2 linked regions of the Homo sapiens genome follow. The protein of the gene in region 1 interacts with the protein of each later gene in a pairwise test. Each region holds a gene or a part of one and is shown on either strand. Other genes may lie near its edges.

The links.
Region 2: the proteins of PIK3R5 (region 1) and CYP4A11 interact in a two-hybrid assay, tested with the Homo sapiens proteins (one large-scale study listed by IntAct).

Annotation. Positions count from the first base shown.
Region 1 is NC_000017.11:8,899,036-8,903,809, reverse strand, and holds part of PIK3R5 (phosphoinositide 3-kinase regulatory subunit 5), read left to right. Parts: intron 1-1,493; exon of another isoform or gene 1,494-1,532; intron 1,533-2,492; exon of another isoform or gene 2,493-2,587; intron 2,588-2,909; exon of another isoform or gene 2,910-3,013; intron 3,014-4,774. UniProt on the Homo sapiens protein: Regulatory subunit of the PI3K gamma complex. Required for recruitment of the catalytic subunit to the plasma membrane via interaction with beta-gamma G protein dimers. Required for G protein-mediated activation of PIK3CG.
Region 2 is NC_000001.11:46,938,297-46,943,611, reverse strand, and holds the start of CYP4A11 (cytochrome P450 4A11), read left to right. Parts: upstream 1-2,135; 5' UTR 2,136-2,178; coding exon 2,179-2,373; intron 2,374-2,795; exon of another isoform or gene 2,796-2,930; intron 2,931-5,315. UniProt on the Homo sapiens protein: A cytochrome P450 monooxygenase involved in the metabolism of fatty acids and their oxygenated derivatives (oxylipins).

The DNA.
Region 1 (4,774 bases):
AGAATTGTCAGAACTAGAAAACAGGTAGCTAAGAGCTTTTTTTATAAACCAGCATTAACCAGTGAGAAAACATAATTTTAAAAAATTTACAATAGCAATTAAAAATAAAAAATAAAAGAAATTTTAATAACCTATATAGAGAAAACAAACTTTGCTGAAGAATGAATAATTGAAGAATCGTATTGCTGGGTTGAATCAATATTGTAACGAGACCAGGTGTTAGGAAAGTAAACGTAACCACAATCAAAATACCAAGATATTTTTAAAATTTATAAAATATATGTAAACTAAAAAACATAATATATAAATATTTTACAAATAAATAAATTTATATATAAAGAAAATAAAAAAATCTATTTGAAAGATTTATTTATGCACTTAGTATATATTCATTCATGTATTTTTAAAGGAGAGTAAGAAGGAAATATTTCCATTTTTTGAAGGTACTATAGGGCTATAGTTATTAAAATAGTACACTATGGGTATAAGAATAGATAGATAATGGAAGAAGATGTAATATCTAGAAATATATTAAATATACAAAATTATATTATATGACAAAGTGGCATCCTCAAATTACTGATGAAAAAATCAGTCATTTCATAGATGATATCAGGATAATTGGTAGACCATAAAAAATATTGAGTTAGAAGACTATCTAAAAAGGCCAGGTGTGGTGGCTCATGCCTGTAATCCCAGCACTTTGGGACGCCAAGGCGGGCAGATCACCTGAGGTCAGGAGTTCGAGACCAGCCTGACCAATATGGTGAAACCCCATCTCTACTAAAAATAGAAAATTAGCTGAGTGTGGTGGCATGAGCCTGTAATCCCAGCTACTCAGGAGGCTGAGGCAGGAGAATCACTTGAACCCAGGAGGTGGAGGTTCAAGTGCCTCCGAGATCACACCATTGCACTCCAGCCTGGGCAACAAGAGCGAAACTCTGTCTCAAAAAAAAAAAAAAATTCTATCTAAAAAATAAAATTAAGAGTTCTAATGCAAACATAAAAATAACTTTTAGATACATTAAAGGTTTAGGTGTAGAAGACAAGACCACAAAAACTACAGAAGAAAAATAGGTTGTATTAGCCTGGAGTGGAGAAGAGCTGCCAAACATATTCCCCAGGGCAAAAATTATAAAGGAAAAGACTAACAGATATGAAAGCATAAAATTTAAAGCTTTTCATATGGCAAGCCCACTTTGAGTGAAAGGTAAATGACAAACTGAGAAAAATATTTGCAATAAAAATTAATATATCAGGCCAAGTGCTGTGGCTCAGACCTGTAATCCCAGCATTTTGGGAGGCCGAGGTGGGCAGATCATGAGGTCTGGAGATCGAGACCATCCTGGCCAACATGGTGAAACCCGTCTCTACTAAAAATACAAAAATTATTTGGGCGTGGTGGCATACACCTGTAGTCCCAGCTACTCGGGAGGCTGAGGCAGAGAATCGCTTGAACCTGGGAGGCAGAGGTTGCAGTGAGTCAAGATCGTGCCATTGCACTCCAGCCTGCAGACAAAGCGAGACTCCATCTAAAAAAAAAAAAAAAAAAAAAAAAAATTAATATATCAAACCCATGAAGAGGTTTTTTTTTTAGTCCATTAAGAAATAGGCAAATACACTTATGGAAATATGAATAAATATGATTCAAGTACATCAAAAAGAACCCCCCAAAATATTCACCCTCACTACTCATAAAGAAAATGCAAAACTAAAGAGCAAGACTCTTCTTCCCCCCCTATCAAATTGGCAAAAATTAAAAAGAAAGAACAAAAATGCCAGCGCTGGTGAGGAATGGGGGGCTGTGTTTGCTAAAGCATCAGAAAGCATACCCTTTCACCCAGCAATTCCATTCCTCAATTTTATCCTGATGAATCCCTATGGATGTACAAAGATGTAGCTACAAAACAAAGACGTTCATCAACGCATCCTTGCTAATAATCAACCAATGCCAAAAAACCTAAATATTGAACATGGTTGAGTATACTGCGGCAAAGTCATTTGGTGGAATGATATTCAATTATTAAAAATGATATTGTAGAAATAGTTACTGAGCTCAAAAGATGTTGAATAACTAGTTGAGCGAAAAAGCAGTCCCCCCAATACTAAGTATGTTATAATCCCATTTTTGTTTTCTCTCTTTCTAATGTATACATGCACCAGGTCCTGTTTAGTACTGGCAGCGTTTAATTCTCACCTTACACATTAAACACACACAGAACAGAAGTACCAAATCTTATTCCCCAACAACTTATGGACCCTAGAAAGCTCAAGACTGGCTTGTAAATTTCTTTGGAAGTGTTCATAACTTTCCTACCCAACCAGTTACCTGATCTGTCTGCGCCCCACCCAGTCAGCTGACCTGTCTGTGCCTCGCCCAATCAGCTGATCTACCTGCCCCCCCATCAGTCAGCTGTCTGTCATTACAAAGAGCAGAGCAAGTACAGCTAGGGATGGCCAACCCCCAAGTCTACCTATAACAAGGTCCTCACCTCATGGTAGAGACTTGGGTGGAGATTTAGGACATCAGGAAGACCCTTAGGAGGCGCTGGACTCTGAAAGGTAAAAGCTGGGTTTGCCAACCCAGCTTCCCAAGGAAAGGAACAAACCAGTTAAAGGAACAAACCCTAAAGGAACACGCCAGTTTAAGGTCAAACTCCTTCATTCCCTCCCACACTCCCTCCCACTGTCCCCCAAAACAAACAGATCAGAATGCCTTCTGAGCTTCTGGTTGGTGACTGAAGTTCCTTTGCTAGGAGGCAATGCCTTTCTTCCTTTCGAGTACGCTCAGAGAAAGAATTTAAAATGCAAATGTCTTGGCAGGGCGTTGGGTTTCCACCAAAGACCGAAATGATTCTTTTTTATTTTGAAAAGGATAAGAGAGTTGTGGGGTTGGGGGAGGGGATTACCTGTGGGGAGACCACTTCCCAGTTTCAAGTAGAACCGGCTGTCCCTCCTCAGCTCAATGCACGCTATGCCTTGAGATATTTTTGCAGGCGGCTGGGTAGAAACTCCGTTCTGGGCAGCACAGAAAGCAGATGTGCCACGGAGGTGCTGGCGGTGGTGAGGCCCTGGCCCTGGAATGATAACATGTGAAGCCTGCAGCACAAGGGCCAGGCAGGGCAGCAGCTGGAGCCGGAAGTAGAATGAGGGTCCTTTGGCCTCAGAGCAGGGGGGACTCTTGGAACCATCACTCACTGCTGATGGCCTTTTCCTCCACATCCTTCCCGGGACCATGTGAAGCTTCAGATATCCTGGTGACCAAGGAGAAGTCAGATGCCCCAAGAGGGCAGCTCAAGCCAAGTACCCATGGCAGGAACCTCTCCTCTTCCAGGGAAAGCAGAACCAAAATAGGAAACCATCAACTCTCCCTCGTTTCGGGGAATCATTTTCAAACAGTTCCAAAACCTCACACATACGTAAATATACAGTGAGCCTGTGCCCGCTCATTAATGAGGAAACCAGCACGATGATAGAGCTGGCTTAAAGGAGGATCCAAGAAACTGAGATGAGCTCCTCATGGAAGCTAGAGTAAGACTCAAAGTTAGATACCAAATAGTTAACATCACAGAGGGGAATAAAACCATAACCTTTGAGGTTATCTTTTCTATTGAACAAAAATCTCTTGCAACTTATCTCACATCCACCAGTTAACCTTCAATTTTAAAGAACCTAAGCCCTAATTAATGACAGATAGTTAAACAAAATTACCTTCTACATGACCCTTAAATGAGCTTGTTGAAAAATACTTTCGCACGATTTTTTTTTTTTTAAGATGGAATCTCGCTCTGTCACCCAGGCTGGAATGCAGTGGCACGACCTCGGCTCACTGCAACCTCTGCCTCCTGGGTTCAAGCGATTCTTCTGCCTCAGCTTCCCGAGTAGCTGGGACTACAGGCGTGCACCACCATGCCTGGCTAATTTTTGTATTTTTAGTAGAGACGGGGTTTCACCATATTGGCCAGGCTGGTCTCGAACTCCTAACCTTGTGAGCCGCCCACCTCGGCCTCCCAAAGTGCTGGGATTACAAGCATGAGCCACCGCGCCCAGCCTTTCCTATGATTTTCAACAGGCCTGCTGCCCAATTCCTGAGTCCCTCCCACCCCCAGTTAAGTGGAGAAAGAGCTAGGATGGAGGCCAGGGAACTTGAATGCTTGAAGGAGAGGCTGAATAACTTAGTGGCTTCTAGTCCTTGGGACCAGACCATTGTACTTGCAAATACTGGGTCTGCTACTTACTAACTGTGGGCCTTCAGCAAGACGTTTAGCTTGTGAGCTTCCGTTTCCTCATCTGTAAAATGGGTGTATAGCAATGCCTCCCTGTCAATGCAGTTAGTGAGGATTAATGTTGGCCTAATTGATTTCACAGTGCTGGGGGCAGTAAGGGTTGCAGTGGTGTTAGCTTAGAAGGTAGGTCCTGGTAAAGTCACAGGGAGAAATGAGAAGGGACGTGGGGAGGTGGGCCCTCCCCCCGTGAAGTCTTAGGGACCCAGTTGCCATGGAAATGAATGAAACAGTTTATCCTGCTTTGATGTGGCTGGGTGGCAGAGGAAGTGGGCCTGTTATCAAGGCTGGGGGCCTCCCCCTGCTTCCTGACTCCACCCCCGTATGATCGCCCAGTGCCTCAATTCTGGAGGTAGCAGGAAACCTCACGTCAGTGCCACTGGGTCCTGCCCACCACAGCCCTCTTGGGCTCAGCCCACATGTTTATTGAATATTTACTCTATGCCTGCATAGCTGTGCCGACCACAATACTTTCCTGCAAAGAATTTACC
Region 2 (5,315 bases), on another chromosome or scaffold:
ATTCCTAGGTATTTTATTTTCTTTGTAGCAATTGTGAATGGGAGTTCACTCATGATTTGGCTTTCTGTTTCTCTATTATTGGTGTGTAGGAATGCTTGTGATTTTTGCACATTGATTTTGTATCCTGAGACTTTGCTGAAGTTGCTTATCAGCTTAGGGAGATTTTGGACTGAGATGATGGGGTTTTCTAAATATACAGTCATGTCATCTGCAAACAGAGACAATTTGACTTCCTCTCTTCCTATTTGAATACCCTTTACTTCTTTCTCTTACCTGGCCAGAACTTCCAATACAAGCGAAAAACAAACAACCCCATTAAAGACACAGACACTTCTCTAAAGAAGACATATGAGCAGCCAAAAAATATTTTTAAAAATGCTCAACATCACTAATGAGAAATGTGAATCAAAACCACATCTCACACAAGTCAGAATGGCTATTATTAAAAAGTTTCAAAGCAACATATGCTGGCTAAGCTGCAGAAAAAAAACATAATGTGTATACATTGTTTGTGGAAATGTAAATTAGTTCCGCCACTGTGGAAAGCAGTTTGGAGATTTCTCAAAGAACTTAAAATAGAACTACTATTTGACCCAGCAATCCCAATATTAGCTATATATCAAAAAGAAAATAAGTTGCTCTACCAAAAAGACACCTCTACTCATACATTCATCACAGCACTATTCGCAATAGCAAAGACATGGCATCAACCTTGGTGCCCATCAATGGTGGACTGGATAAAGAAAATGTGATACATATACACAGTGGAATACTAGACAGCTATAAAAAAATAAAGAAATCATGTTCTTTGCAGCAACATGGATGAATTGGGAGGCAATAATCCTAAGCAAATTAACACAGCAACAGAAAACCAAATACCGCATGTTCTCACTTATAAGTGGGAACTACATTTTGGATACTTATGGACATAAATATGGGAACAATAGACACTGGGGACTACTAAAGGGGTAGGTACAGATATGAGTAAGCATTGGAAATTTGACTAATATATACCATACTCACTACCTGAGTGGCAGAATCATTTGTATCCAAACCCTCAGCATCACACAATACACCAGTGTAAAAAACCTGCATACGTACCTGAATCTAAAATAAAAGTTGAAATTATAAAAAGAGGAAAAAAAGAATGCTCATGCACAGATATGCATGTAAAAATGCCAGGGAGGGTTAATTCATAGCAACAGTTGCTATTTAACCTACTTTACTTGAGGTTGGCAAAGCAATCATTTTTTAAATATTAATTTCTGTTTAGTACAGATTGTCCTTGGTCAGGACTCCTAAACAGAGTGCAAAGTTCTGATTGTGTAATTACATACTATTGTAGGGTGAAAGAGAATTGGTAAACAGGCTCCTGCTGTGACTATAGTACTAGACTGAAGTAGGACTAAAATTGCTCTAGGACTTACTCTGGTAGAAAAGGTAGACCTATCAATAGGGGAAAAAGTCATACCTAACATGATGTAGAATTTTTTTAAATTGTCATGTATATGAATTGAGAAAAAAAATCATGCTATGCATATTATGAGACCAGTTTCCCCAATGGAATAAAATAAAGTACTTGAACAGCTGCTATATTAGCATCTGTTTGTCCATATCATCATCCAGTTACTAGAAAGACATAATTCCCACTCTTCACTCAATATATAGATGGAAGTGGTTTTTATGGTAAATAAAATTAGATTTGCAATAAGACAAAAGTAATGATTCAGGGCTTGGTTAATGTTAAGTTTAAATGTACATATCATGTTGAGAATTTTCTTTGAACACATAACAAAAAAAAAGTGCTACTGAATGAACATTATTGCAATGTAGTAAAGCAGAATGCAAATTCCTTGAGGTCAGCATTCAAGTCTGTTTTCCTCGCAGCGGTGCCCACACACCTAGCATACTGCCTGGCACACAGTAAATGCTCATTAAATATTTGTGAGGTACATGGACAGGGGAATGTGGTAGACAGCTGATGAAGCTTTTCTCCCACTGTTGCCCTAGGTGGATCATCCATAGTCAATTGATTCTGAACTCTGAGGTCCAAGTTCTGCCCTCCTCCTTCACTCTCCCCACAAGTGGGCGGGACAATCCTCCCTGGATTTGAGCACAGGGGGACGGGGGTGGTCAGAGAGAGGTAGGGGCACTCAGAGATCCAGCAGGTGCTGCACCATGAGTGTCTCTGTGCTGAGCCCCAGCAGACTCCTGGGTGATGTCTCTGGAATCCTCCAAGCGGCCTCCCTGCTCATTCTGCTTCTGCTGCTGATCAAGGCAGTTCAGCTCTACCTGCACAGGCAGTGGCTGCTCAAAGCCCTCCAGCAGTTCCCGTGCCCTCCCTCCCACTGGCTCTTCGGGCACATCCAGGAGGTAGGGAGGAACTCAATGGGGGAGTGGGAGGGCAAAGAGGGATGGGGCTCTGAGACCCTGGTCACAAAATCCATAGAGCAAAGCCTTGTTTTGTAACAAATGTGAGGACTCAAAGGAACACCCAGCCTACCTCTCTGGTCTCAGCTTTTCCCAGTCATGAGGAGCTCACTTCTCCCATGAAGCCCATCCTGCTGGTCCTCAGCTCTATCACCCGTGCCCTCCTTCTGCAGATATCAAGTGTGTCTTGGCAGTCCTGCATGTGGAGGGCAATGCCTGATTGTCTCCAGACTGATTACCCCATAAGCCTTGGCTTTCATCAAAGAACAAGGCTTCTAGATGCTCTCTGCCCAGTCACTCAATGCCATCACTCTGCCTGGCCCTGTGTTTGCCAGGGAGCACAGACACCCATCTGAGGAATCCATGCCATGAGGAGTTTATGGTCTGTGAAGAATACAGGCAGGAATTTGAGAAGGTGTCAGACTGCAGGAAAGGAGCTCACTCTGCTGGGGTGGATATCTGAGGCAGAGATCTGCTGGTATAGGGGACCAACTGGCTAAGTAAGTTTCCCCAAGACTCACGGAATTTCCACAACAGGTGATTTAGGATCTGAAAACCTGACAATTATGGGTACACATGAGGGGGGCAGCCTGCACAATGTTCTCCAGGTGAGGAGACTGGTGTTTGAGTTGCACATTGAACAGGGTGTGTTGACCTCCTGGCTCTCCTCCCACACACCCGGACTGTGAGCTCCCTGGCGGTGAGCATGTCATCCCCTTCCTGTGCCCCGGCAATCAGCAAAATCCTGGCACAGCTTGATGATCAGCTCAGGTGTGTAGAGCAAGCTTGTCCAACCCACGCCCCATGGGGCTGCATGTAGCTCAGGATGGCTTTGAATGTGGCCCAACACAAATTCGTAAACTTTCTTAAAACGTTATGAGATTATTTTGCAATTTTTTTGAGTTCATCAGCTATCATTAGTGTTAGTGTATTTTATGCATGGCTCAAGACAATTATTTTTCTTCCAATGTGGCCTAGGAAAGCCAAAAGATTGGACACACCAGGTGTAGAGGAACAGAGGAAGAAGAGAAAGGAGCAGCAAGAGGGCTGAGGAGGGACACAGCCCATCCCCTGTGCACTGCTATCCCTACAAGGGGAGGGGGGCGGGTAGGAACAGAGCAGGTAAACGGCTGCATGGAGAGGGACTCACCAAGGTGCTATGAATTGAACACACTTAAGTAGAGATAGGGGTTGCAGGGAACTGAGGCCTATTGTTTCTCAGCAAAGGAGGCAACATAGTTCTCAGCAGAGCAGAACAAATGTGGGGACCTGCCAAAGTTCTAACCCTATATGGACTGGTCCCAATACCACTCTGCCTTCTTTCCCATTCTCCTCTTTTACCATATGTTACTCACTACCTCACTACCTGCCTCTGCATTTCAACCTTTAGGTCTCTGATCACACTATGCTTGCTACCTGGAATTATCTTCTCACGCATATCTATCTGTCAAGGCCCAGCACCAAGCTACCTCCTTCAAGAAGGCCTCCTGGGTCTCCCAGTAGTGAAGGGCTGACTCTTTTTTCCATGAGCTATCCTTCTCAAGAGGCCAGAGCAGTGTTAACTTGACTCAGTTATTGTTCTGCAGTGTCATAAGTGTGGGATTCTTCTGGGAGAGACCATCTCTGATTTATGTTTGTAACCCAATAGTCCCTCAGTAAATGATGACTCAGTGAGTGAGGAAGAGCTTTCTAATGTTCAGTTCTGAGTTAGGTCCCTCTTCAAAGCTTCCCCAGATGCTTGTCCTTCATTCCATATCATGTCCATTATCCCCTACTGCACAGCCTCTAATCTTTCTTACCCCCCAACTAGACTGAAAATTCCACACAGATAAGGACCACAGCTGTATCCTAACGCAGTGCCTGAGCCACACTGGGCACATAGTATGTGTGCAGTAAGCATGGGCTGAATGAAGGAGCCTACCCCACAGTAGGGCAAGCTGCCTCAGAGCTGGACAATATGATTATCAGAAGGAGATGGGCAGATATTCGATACCTATGTGGTAGACAGTTGCTTTGATTTACTAGAAGCAGTTGAAATAAAGAAGAGTTGGCTACATGGAACATCACTAGGACCCAATGTCTTTGAGGGTTCCAGATGAGATTAAAGCAAAGCTGAGTCTTGAAAGCTGAGGAGAGGTGGCTGCTCTGTGGCAGAGGGGAAGGGCATTCAAGGTAGAGAAAAGAGCAAGTGCCAGGGCCCAGAAGAGTGAGCAGGTGTAGCTGGTGTGCGATTCAGCAGCAGTGGTGGCATCGGCATTGGAGCTGAAACAAACGGGTGATGGTGGAATTGCCAGCAGGGCTGGAGGCAAGAAAAGAGAAGTTGAAGCCAGAAAGCCAAGGGCTTTGTGATCCACATCGAAGAGTTTAGAAAGATGACTGCAGGCAGCAGGGAGCTCATAATTCGTTGATAAGTGAAAATGAGAATAAGAAACCCAAATCTCAAAATTATTGTCCAACACCAGCACCATATGCATATACTCAGACTCCATCCCATAAATCTGTACATATTCAACATGTAGAATACTATTATGCACACAATTTTATAGTTAATCTTTTTTTGCTTACCAATACACATCCCAAATGCTATTTTATCTTAACAAATATTTACCGTATATGCTGGGATAATATTGAAAATATAACAAGTATGATTATATAAAGGCATTGTGTAATTTAAAATGTTTACATTAATTCATTTTATTCTCTAGATATACTAAATGATTTTACAAATCTACTTATCAACTAATATGAGTTATACACATTGCCCATGGAAATTGTTGTATTTATGACTTCCAGAGATGTTACACAACATGAAGACAATGGCTGACTTAAATTTCTGCTGGCAGCATTGAGCGAGGGCTCATAGCGCTTGGCCTAAGGTCAAGTCC